Linked DNA regions of Homo sapiens. The protein of the gene in region 1 purifies or fractionates together with the protein of each later gene. This does not show direct contact. Each region holds a gene or a part of one and is shown on either strand. Other genes may lie near its edges.

Region 1 (6,081 bases):
TTGGAGCGCGCCTCGGGCCTCAGCCACTGGCGGCACAGCGTCCAGAGCTGGCCCAGCGCGAGGTGCGGCCCGCTCGCCACGTGGTACTGGAACTGCCGGAAGCGCAGACGCTGGGCTTCGGTGTCCCTGGGGCTTGCTGGCCCAGGGTCTGCGTCCTGCTCACTCGGGGTTGGGGTCTGGGGGCGTCTGGGGGAGGCAGGGGCTTTGGGCCGTGGAAGCATTTCTCTGGCCACAGTGCCCCTCTGAGGGGTGTGTGTGGACTGGATCCCGAGTCCCAGTGGCTCCGGACAGAGCCGGTGTGGCAGGCGGACAGAATCAGCAATCAGGGGCCTGCAGAGAGGGGCAGGGACAGAGGGGTCACATCAGATGGTGGCCCTCTGTACTCAGGATGCCCCTCGGCTCCTTACTTCCTTGTTCTGACCTCCAGCACCCCAAGGAACCAACCTGACCTCTTCCCACCTTCTGACCTAATCTTCCACATGCCTCTCACAGGCTACTTTGCACTGAGTTCAAGCCACTGGCTGCCCCAGGACCTTTGCACCTGCCATCCCACCCCAGCCCCTCCCCTTCCCACCCCAGCTCCTCCCCTCGCAGATGTCCTGGCCATCATCCTTATGGCACTGTCTTCATAACCTCCATGACTTTCTGAACACAACTTTTCCCCTTACTTAGTGTCTATCTCCCTCTCATTTAGTCATTCAACACACATTGACTGACGAGCTGCGGGAACAAGAATGCCTGCCCCGTGGTGTGGCCAGCACTGCCCAGTGAAGTTCCTACAGGGATGTAAAGATTCTCTACCCATGCAACCACCTACGTGTGGCTAGGAGCACCTGAAATAGGAACTGAATTTTAAATTTAAATTCCATTTAAATGGAAGCAGCCAGGTGGGCTACATAATAATGGATGACACCACCACCAGCAGCAGGTCTACCCATGGTGTTATCTTTGCTGTCTTCCTGACTTTCCTACCAGGTCCAAGCTGGGGGTGGAGACCAGGAAGAGGGCAAGGGAGACTGGAGACTCTGAAAAGAGAGGGAAAGTGGGAAGAGTAATTTTAAAATAACCTTTTGTGGCCGGGTGCCGTGGCTCACACCTGTAATCCCAGCACTTTGGGAGGCCCGGGTGGGTGGATCACCTGAAGTCAGCAGTTCAAGACCAGCCTGACCGACATGGCGAAACCCCGTCTACTAAAAATACAAAAATTAGCCGGCGTGGTGGTGCACACCTCTAATCCCAGCTACGTGGGAGGCTGAGGCAGGAGAATTGCTCCAACCCAGGAAACAGAGGTTGCAGTAAGCCAAGATCGCACCACTGTACTCCAGCCTGAGTGACAGCGTGAGATTCCATCCCAAAAAAAATAAATAACCAAAAATGAGTTGGGCGTGGTGGCACGCACCTGTAATCCCAGCTACTCGGGAGGCTGAGACAGGAGAAATGCTTGAACCCAGGAGGCGGAGATTGCAGTGAGCTGAGACTGTGCCACTGCACTCCAGCCTGAGCGACAGAGTAAGACTCTGTCTCAAAAAAAAAAAAAAAAAAGAAAAGAAAAAAAAGAAGTTACCTTTTGTACATTTTCCAAGCCGACTATGGTGAACATATAACTGAAGAAAACATTAAAAGTTGTAAAAATAAAAATAAGCAGGGAGGTTTCGTTTGTTTGTCTTTAACAATTGTACTCTGGACTGATCCGCTGGTGAGAATATAAATTGGCACGACCTTTCTGGAAAGCACTGTGGCCATTTATATATCAAGAACACTTGGTAGACTGCGTGCAAGATGCGAGATTCAGGCACCAAGATTCACTACAAAAGTGCCCAACAGTTGAACGTGGTGGGATCAACTACCTCCCCCATCATGTGATGGGAGTATTCAACCGTGCCCAGTACACAACACTATGACATGACCACGGGGAGTAGACACATGATGTACAGATGACATGAGGCACAGGGAACGTGGGATGCAGGATGATGCGTGAGTGTCATAGAAAGGGAGTCCTGGGAAGACGCCCATGGGGGGCGGCCAAGTGCTTTGTGCTGTTCATACTTCTCTGAATCTCCTCCAAATGGTGTCGGGCTCCCATGTGACCTTCATCAACATGGAAAAACAAAACAAAACAAGACATCTTTAGGAAGGATTTTTGACCATATGGGAAATGCTTATGACAAGTGAAAAGGAGGGATTCCATGGGATTTTTCCCTCTTCATCCTCTGCTGCATTTTTCATACACTCTGCAGTTCTCGTGCATCTGGTTTTACAATCCAGGAGAAAGGAGAGGTGCAGGGTGGCAGAAAGGCAACTCACGGGGACTGTGCCCAGCCAGCCATCTTCGAGTCAGCGTACCCGGCCACCTGCACCCTGATTGGGAAACTACCAGCTTGGTCTTCCCTGCCAAGGCCACAGGCAAAAATGCTCTCTTATGTTGTATTCACACTTTTATATATGTAGTTTTGAATAAGAAAAAAGGGCCTATTTTGAAGCTCCACAGGTTCAAGAAATCCCTTTGCCCTGGGGCCTCAGACCTTATACTCTCTCAGGTGCTCATGGCAGCTCACCCTGGAGACTCTAGGGAGGGGGGCTGTAGCCCCTCAGCATCCTCCAGGGTCCTGGGCTGAGGTCTGTGGGAGGAGATGCTAAGTTTATCAGGGATGAGGGTAAAGAGGAGGTCTTAGCAGAAGGCACCAGAGGTCCATGGGTGTGTCTGGGGTCTATATGGGGGCTGATGTGGAACACCTAGGCCAATGTGGGGGTACCTGAGCTGATGAGAGTCCTGGACTGATGGGTGGCTGTTTCTGGAAGATGAAGAGGGCCTGGGATGATGTGAAGGGGACTGAGGTCTACATGGCTGGTGAGGAGGATCTGGGCCCCCCCATGGGCAATGCTGTGGTGGCCCTGGGGTCCTAGAAGTCTACTTTGGTAGGGGTCTCTGATTAATGTTGGGGATGTGTGTGTGTGAGAGAGTGTCACTTGGAGGGCTCAGTGCCTGTGGAAGGGCCAGGTTCACCTGGCATGGGCACTGAGATCTGCAGCCCGAGCCCCAAATTCTATTGCGGGGATGGGCAGAAGGGCTTTGCCGCTGATGCCGGATGCTTAGTGACATAGAAGACGTGTTCACTGCGCCAGTCAGTGAATGGTTCTGGCTTTGAGAAGGGGGCTTACAGTGGGGAGGGCGTTGGGAGCTTAGGATGCCACACGGAGGAGTTCCATAATAAACGAGCTGGGGAAGTGTGCAAGGGCAGCGCACTGGGAATACAGGGGAGGGGCAGCGACGACGGCTGTGGACGGCTGGTTGGGGGGAGGATGGTGGGGTGATTGGGTGGGGGATGGGTCGGGGGCGGCTGTTCAGGAGGGAGATGGGCCTGGGGCGGGGAGGGGGAGCTTGTAGGGAGAGAGACGGGTCGGGGGCTGCTGTTCCAGTGGGGGATGGGCCCAAGGGGCCGGGTAGGGAGGGAGATGGGTCCGGGGGCGGCTGTTCAGGAGGGAGATAGGTCCCGGGATGCTGATCAGGTGTGGAAGGGAGAACTTGGACGCGGCCGAGCGGTGTTTGGGCGGGCAATGGGGGTACGTAGAGGGGCTTCGGCCTCAAACGGACAGGCGGATGCCAACAGGGGTCGGGGTCCCTGCGGAAGGGGCGGCCCCAGCCCCCCCAGTCCCCGCCCCGCGTGGCCTCTAGCCTTCCCCTTCCCTCCCCTACGGCGACCTCAGGACTCCCGATGGGCTCTGGAACCCCGGCCCGGCCCGCCCCCTCCCGGGCCCGGGCCCGCCTCCCCCGACGCGCGCCCCTGGACCGCGATCCCGGGCCAGCTCCCGCCGACGCGGCGCCGAGACCCTCCCGGGTGGGCGTCCCGATGGACGCTCTGGCGGGCGGAGGGACGGATGGGCCGCGGCGGACTCACCGCGCGCGGGCTTCGCTCGGGCCTGGGCCACTCGGTCATGGCGACCCCTGGGCTGGCGAGCGCGCCCAACGCCGCGGGCGGACCCCATCCCCGCACCCTGCGCGCCGCGGGCGGCCGCCATTGGTCCGCTGGATCACGCCGGGCGTCGGTGACAAGTCACCGCTGCGGGACTCCCGGGCAGGGGCGGGGCTGTGACGCACGAGGCGGCCGAGGCCAATCAGAAGCCGCCTGGGATGAGCGCCCCGCCCCCGCCGTGCCCTCCAGTTACCTCGGGCCGCGGTTCCAGTCGCCTTGGCAACGGGTCGCGCAGCGTCAGGGACGCTGCTGCGGAAAGTGGAGACGGTGGCGGCTGCGGGGATGCGCATGTACGATGGGGCCGCGGGGCAAAACGACGGCATTCCAGACACGCAACCGTTTTATACAGTGTCCAAGAGTAGTATGTTAAAACATTGTTTTTAATATAAATATGTTTAGTACAAGTATGTCCCAGACTAGGATCGCCACTCTTAGCAAATAAAAATACAGGACGTCGGCCGGGCGCGGTGACACGCCTGTAATCCCAGCACTTTGGGAGGCCAAGGCAGGCGGATCACGAGGTCATGAGTTCGAGACCAGCCTGACCAATATGGTGAAACCCCCGTCTCTACTAAAAATACAAAAATTACCTGGGCGTGGTGGCGCATGCCTGTAATCCCAGTTTCTCAGGAGGCTGAGACAGGAGAATCACTGGAACCGGGGAGGCGGAGGTTGCAGTGAGCCGAGATTGCTCCATTGCACTCCAGTTTTCCAGCGTGGGTGACAGAGCGAGACTCCGTCCCCCCACCCCCAAAAAAAAGAAAGAAAAAAGAAACCTCAGTTATATGTAAACTCAAGAAAAACAAGGAGGCCGGGCGCGATAGCTCACGCCTGTAATCCCAGAACTCGGGAGGCCGAGGCAGGCGGATCACCTGAGGTCGGGTGTTTCAGACCAGCCTGGCCAACATGGTGAAACCCCGTCTCTACTAAAAATACAAAAATTAGCCAGGCATGGTGGTGCGTGCCTGTAATCCCAGCTACTCGGGAGGCTGAGGTAGGAGAATCGCTGGAACTGGGGAAGCCGAGGTTGCAGTGAGCCGAGACCTGCCAACGCACTCCAGCCTTGCCTGGGCAACAGAGTGAGACTCTGTCTCAAAAAAAAAAAAAAAAAAAAAAAAAGAAAGAAAGAAAAAGAAAAACAAGGAATTAGTATCAATGTGTCCTATATTTCATATACTTTAACGAAACCTTACATAAGAACATTTCATATAAATAAGTTTTAATATTAATGTCTACAATGTAACCATGTGCCAGAATAGTAGGGTTCCACAGATACTCGTTTTGTATCTGAAATCAGGTGGGGGTGAGATCATGATGCAAGGAGGGTCCTCAGCTCTGGGACTGAGCTCAGGATAGCTGAAGCTGCTCATTGCTGAAGAAGAAGCAGGAGAGTGTGAGCTAAGAAAAGAGAGGAGGACCCACCTCCAGGGGGTCCAGCATCTGCTGGACAGCTGTTTATTGAGGGCCTATGTGTACCAGGCACTGTTCTGGACACTGGGGTGGGAGCACATCAGTGAGAGGGACTGATAGGGCTTTAGTCCCTTGGAAGCCCATGTTCATGGGGCAAACACCAGTAAACAAAGCAGATGCTTCATGGAAATATAAATACCTAGAATAAAATAAAACGAGGCCTGGAGATTAAGAGTCCCAGGAGTGGCAGGGAGGGGAGGGGCTGCCTCAGCTGGATAATCAGAGCCGTGTCTCCGCATCTTTGCTGCTGGCGGCTGGTCCCTGGAATGTTGTGTGTGAATGCCACTTTGTGCAGAAACCACTATGGGAAAACCAAATTAGGGTGCTAAGGGCTTATTATTCTCCTTCTTGAAAATTAGGCACTTGTAATGACATGGTTCATTTTCTTGGTAGCTGAAATTGGCGTGGCCCTTTGGGGCAGTGAAGGCTCATGTGTGCATTTATAACTGCCACCCATTTGGGAAATCTCCCTTGAGAGAACACTGACTTAGTCTGTCTCTAGAGTCTGGATCTAGACACCATCATAGGCCACCTGGTAACTCTAGATCCATTGGGAGGCAGCCTGGTGTCTAGCAGAGGTTTCAGTTTTTTTTTGTTTGTTTGTTTTGTTTTTTTTAAAAAGAGTCTTGCTCTTGTTGCC
Region 2 (3,834 bases), on another chromosome or scaffold:
CATCCTCCTTCTTCCTTTCTCCCTTTAGGGAAAGGTTTAGGAAATGAAGAACAGGGAAAAGCAAACCCATCAGAATTGGGTATCTAATGAAGAAGGAAGAGAGGTGAAATCTCAACATTGCAAATTTTACTGCTGTAGTCCAATGCCTGAGCTATTTCAACAAATACCCCTCACTTAGTAAACACTAATTGACAACCACCTTCTCTTCAAAAGATGGTAAGTTCAGAGACTGTGATGTTTTCTTTCATTACAAATTTGACAGTATATGAGTTCAGAAACTGGAATCAGGGCTTAGCCATGTATCCTAATTACAGAAGGATTGACAGTCTGGATGGAGATGAGCTGGAACGGCCTATGGGAAATCACAGGATCTGGAGAAGGATCCCTTGTGATGTGGAAAATGTGTGTGTGCACACGTGCATGCACAGGCACATGCACGTTGTTCAATATGGCAGCCACTAGCCACATGTGACTATGTGGCTACTGGGTACTTGAAATGTGACTACTGTGACTAAGGAACTTAATTTTAAATTTTTTTTTAATTTTAATTCATTTAAATTCAAATGTAAATAATCAGCCTATACAATCAGGGTCAATTGCTTTTTGACAAGACAATTCAATGGGAAAAGAATAGTCTTTTTCATAAAGGATTCTAGGACTACTGGATTTCCACATACAAGAGAATGAAGTTGGACCCTGCTATGGTCTGAATGTTTATCCCCCCTGTCCCCTGACACACATATATTGACAGTCCCCAGTGCAGTGGTCTTGGGAGGTGGGGCATCTGGGAGGTGATTAGGTTATGAGGGTGGGGTCCTCATAAATGGGATTAGTGTCCTTATAAAAGAAACCCAAGAGACTACCATGTGGGGACTCATAGCAGGCACCATTTATGAGGAATGGGCCCTCGCCAGACACCAAATCTGCTGGCACCTTGATCTTGAACTTCCCAGTATCCAGGAACTATGAGCAACAAATTTCTGTTGTTTATAAATTACCTAGTCTAAGGCAATTTGTTGTAAGAGCCTGATCAGATTAAGACAGACCCCTGATCAGATTGACAGACCCCTACCTCAAAACCTATATAAAAATTGACTTGTTTATGTATGGGGAAAAAATAAACTTAAAATGGACCAAATAGCTGAAAGTAAGAGCTAAATCTATGTCTCCTTGAAGAAACCATAGCTGTACATATTTGTGCCCTTGGATTAGGCAGTGCTATTTTACATATGACACCAAAGCATAAAGAAAGAAAAAAATAGATAAATTAGACTGCAGCAAAATGAAAAACGTGTGCGTCAAAGGACACTGTCAAGAAAGTGAGACAACCCACAAAATGAGAGAAAAGATTTGCAAATTACACATAAGGGTCTAGTATCTAGAATACATAAAGGACTCTTATAAAAAATAAAGACAAATAACCTAATTTAAAAATGACCAAAGGATCTGAACAGATATTTTTCCACACAAGATATGTAACTGGATAATAAGCACATGAAAAGATGTTCAACACCATTAGTCACTAGGGAAATGTAAATCAAAACCTCAAATCAAAATTTCTCACCGAATAGGATGGGTATAAGACAATAACAAGTGCTAGCAAGAATGTGGAGAAATCGGAATCCTCACACAGTATTGGTGGGGATGTAAAATGGTGTAGCTGCTTTGGAAAACAGTCTGGTAGTTCCTCATAAGTTAAACATGGAATTACCACATGACCTAGCATATGGTAATTCCACTCCTAGGTATATACTCAAGAGAAATGAAAACATGTCTACACAAAAACACACATTTATAGCAGCATTCTTCATAATAACCAAAAAGTAGAAACAACCCAAAAATCTATGAACAGATGAACCAACATGAACAGAAAACCAACATGTAATATATCCGTACAATGCCTATTATTCAGCCACAGAAAAGGAATGAAGCACTGATTGATGCTACAGCATGGATAAAACTTGAAAACATGCTCAGTGAAAGAAGCCACACACAAAAGACCACATATTGTGTGATTCAATTTATTTATTTATTTATTTTTGAGACAGGGTCTTACTTTGTCACATAGGCTAGAGTGCAGTGGCACGATCTCAGTTCACTGCAGCCTCGACCTCCCAGGTTGAAGTGATCCTCCTGCCTCAGCTCCCCCAAGCAGCTGGGATTACAGGTGTGCAGCACCATGCCCCGCTAATTTTTGCATTTTTTGTAGAGACAGGATTTCGCCATGTTGCCCAGGCTGGTCTCGAACTCCTGAGCCTAAGTGATCCGCCTGCCTTGGCCTCCCAAAGTGCTGGGATTACAGGCGTGAGCCACTGTGCCCGGCCTGTGTGATTCCATTTGTATAAAATGTTCAGAATAAGCAATTCTAGAGACAAAAAGTAGACTGTGGTTGCCAGGGGCTAAATGTTTATGTTCCTCCAAATTCATATGAAATTCTAACTCCCAAGGTAATAGTGTTAGGACATGGGGCCTTTGGGAGGTGATTAGGTCATGAGGGTGCTGCCCTCACTGGAATGGGATTAGTGCCTTCATGAAAGAGCCCCACGGGAGCCTGTCTTCCCCTTCTGCCACATGAGGACTGAGAAGTAGGCAGTCTGTGACCTGGAAGAGGGGCCTCACTGGAACCCAACCATGCTGGCACCTTGAACTCAGACTTCCTAGCCTCTAGAACTGTGAGAAATAAACTCCTGTTGTTTATAAACTACCTAGTCTCTAGCATTTTATATTAGCAGCCTGAACAGACTAAAACACGAAGTACCTCATTGGATGTAGCAAATATTAAGAAACTGAGGATTTTTGTCGTCTTGTAACCCTCCTCCCTAACGTGCTCACTGTATCTTGTATTCACATCACCAGGCTTGGCCAAAATGTCACTGTCATTCAGGCTTAGAGATCACAGGACTGTGTAGAACAAGGCCAGCAGTTACACAAGTATCACACCAGAGAAAGGGAAATAGATTTGAGGATCTAAAGTACAAGCAACATCACAGAGGAGGACAAAGATATAAGATATAGGGTGGGTTTTTATTTCTACCAGGCCCCTCTAAACAGAGGAGCATTTTAAGCAATGAAACTCAGCCATAGCTTGCATGGAAGTTCATCTGTGGCCATATTTGGATCTGTCTTTTCTATAAGAAGTTCTGAAACGGACAGAAAAGTAGGTACAACCCTGTCATGCACTGGATTCTTAAATTTTCATTAACAGAAAACGATAAAAACATACTTACTTGTAGTATCACCACCATCCTAATTAGTGAAATTTGTTTAGTGAATAATCATCTACTATTATATATAACATTTAAAAAAACACACACATGTGGTCTATGCCTTTGCAGAACCATGAGATACATTGATGGAGATAAAGGGCTGATGAGAGGGAGAGAAAAGGCAGAGTGTTTACCTGTCCCAGCCAATTTGGGGGTTGGTTCTTGGAGGAGTGGGGATTTCTCCCAATGATGGGGGCTCAGCCGGTCATAAGCTCCTGCCTGGGAAGGCTCTGCTGGAGAGCTCTCCCTGAGATCTCTCCTAGGAGTCTGCGGTTGAAAGTCTGGCAGTTCCTGTTCTCCAAGCTGAGATCCAGTTTTCTCCAAGAGCACCTTTTGCCCCTGCATACAAACGGCCACCTAGGAACAAGCCCCATCCATTAATTCCATCCATCAGGACTGAGGGAAGCTTGATCTCTCACTGTTGTATAATGACCCGTTTACCTTGGGAATTGCTGATAACCATCTAGAGGTCAACTTTCATAGAAACCACTGAAACCCTCAAAGGAAGTAAAGGGGAGAACGTGAAGAATGACAGGAATGAGGATGCTACAAATCAGCCGAGTGGCTT

The links.
Region 2: the proteins of ZSCAN1 (region 1) and ZNF174 purify together in Homo sapiens (affinity purification with mass spectrometry; 3 studies listed by BioGRID and IntAct, with this or other methods). This does not show direct contact.

What each region holds. Positions count from the first base shown.
Region 1 is NC_000019.10:58,031,977-58,038,057, reverse strand, and holds the start of ZSCAN1 (zinc finger and SCAN domain-containing protein 1), read right to left. Parts: upstream 4,034-6,081; 5' UTR 3,897-4,033; intron 3,316-3,896; exon of another isoform or gene 2,089-3,315; 5' UTR 2,047-2,088; exon of another isoform or gene 1,576-2,046; coding exon of another isoform or gene 1,565-1,575; intron 331-1,564; coding exon of another isoform or gene 222-330; coding exon 1-221. UniProt on the Homo sapiens protein: May be involved in transcriptional regulation.
Region 2 is NC_000016.10:3,404,215-3,408,048, reverse strand, and holds part of ZNF174 (zinc finger protein 174), read right to left. Parts: intron 3,624-3,834; coding exon 3,401-3,623; coding exon of another isoform or gene 3,276-3,400; exon of another isoform or gene 3,141-3,275; coding exon of another isoform or gene 3,061-3,140; exon of another isoform or gene 2,008-3,060; intron 1-2,007. UniProt on the Homo sapiens protein: Transcriptional repressor.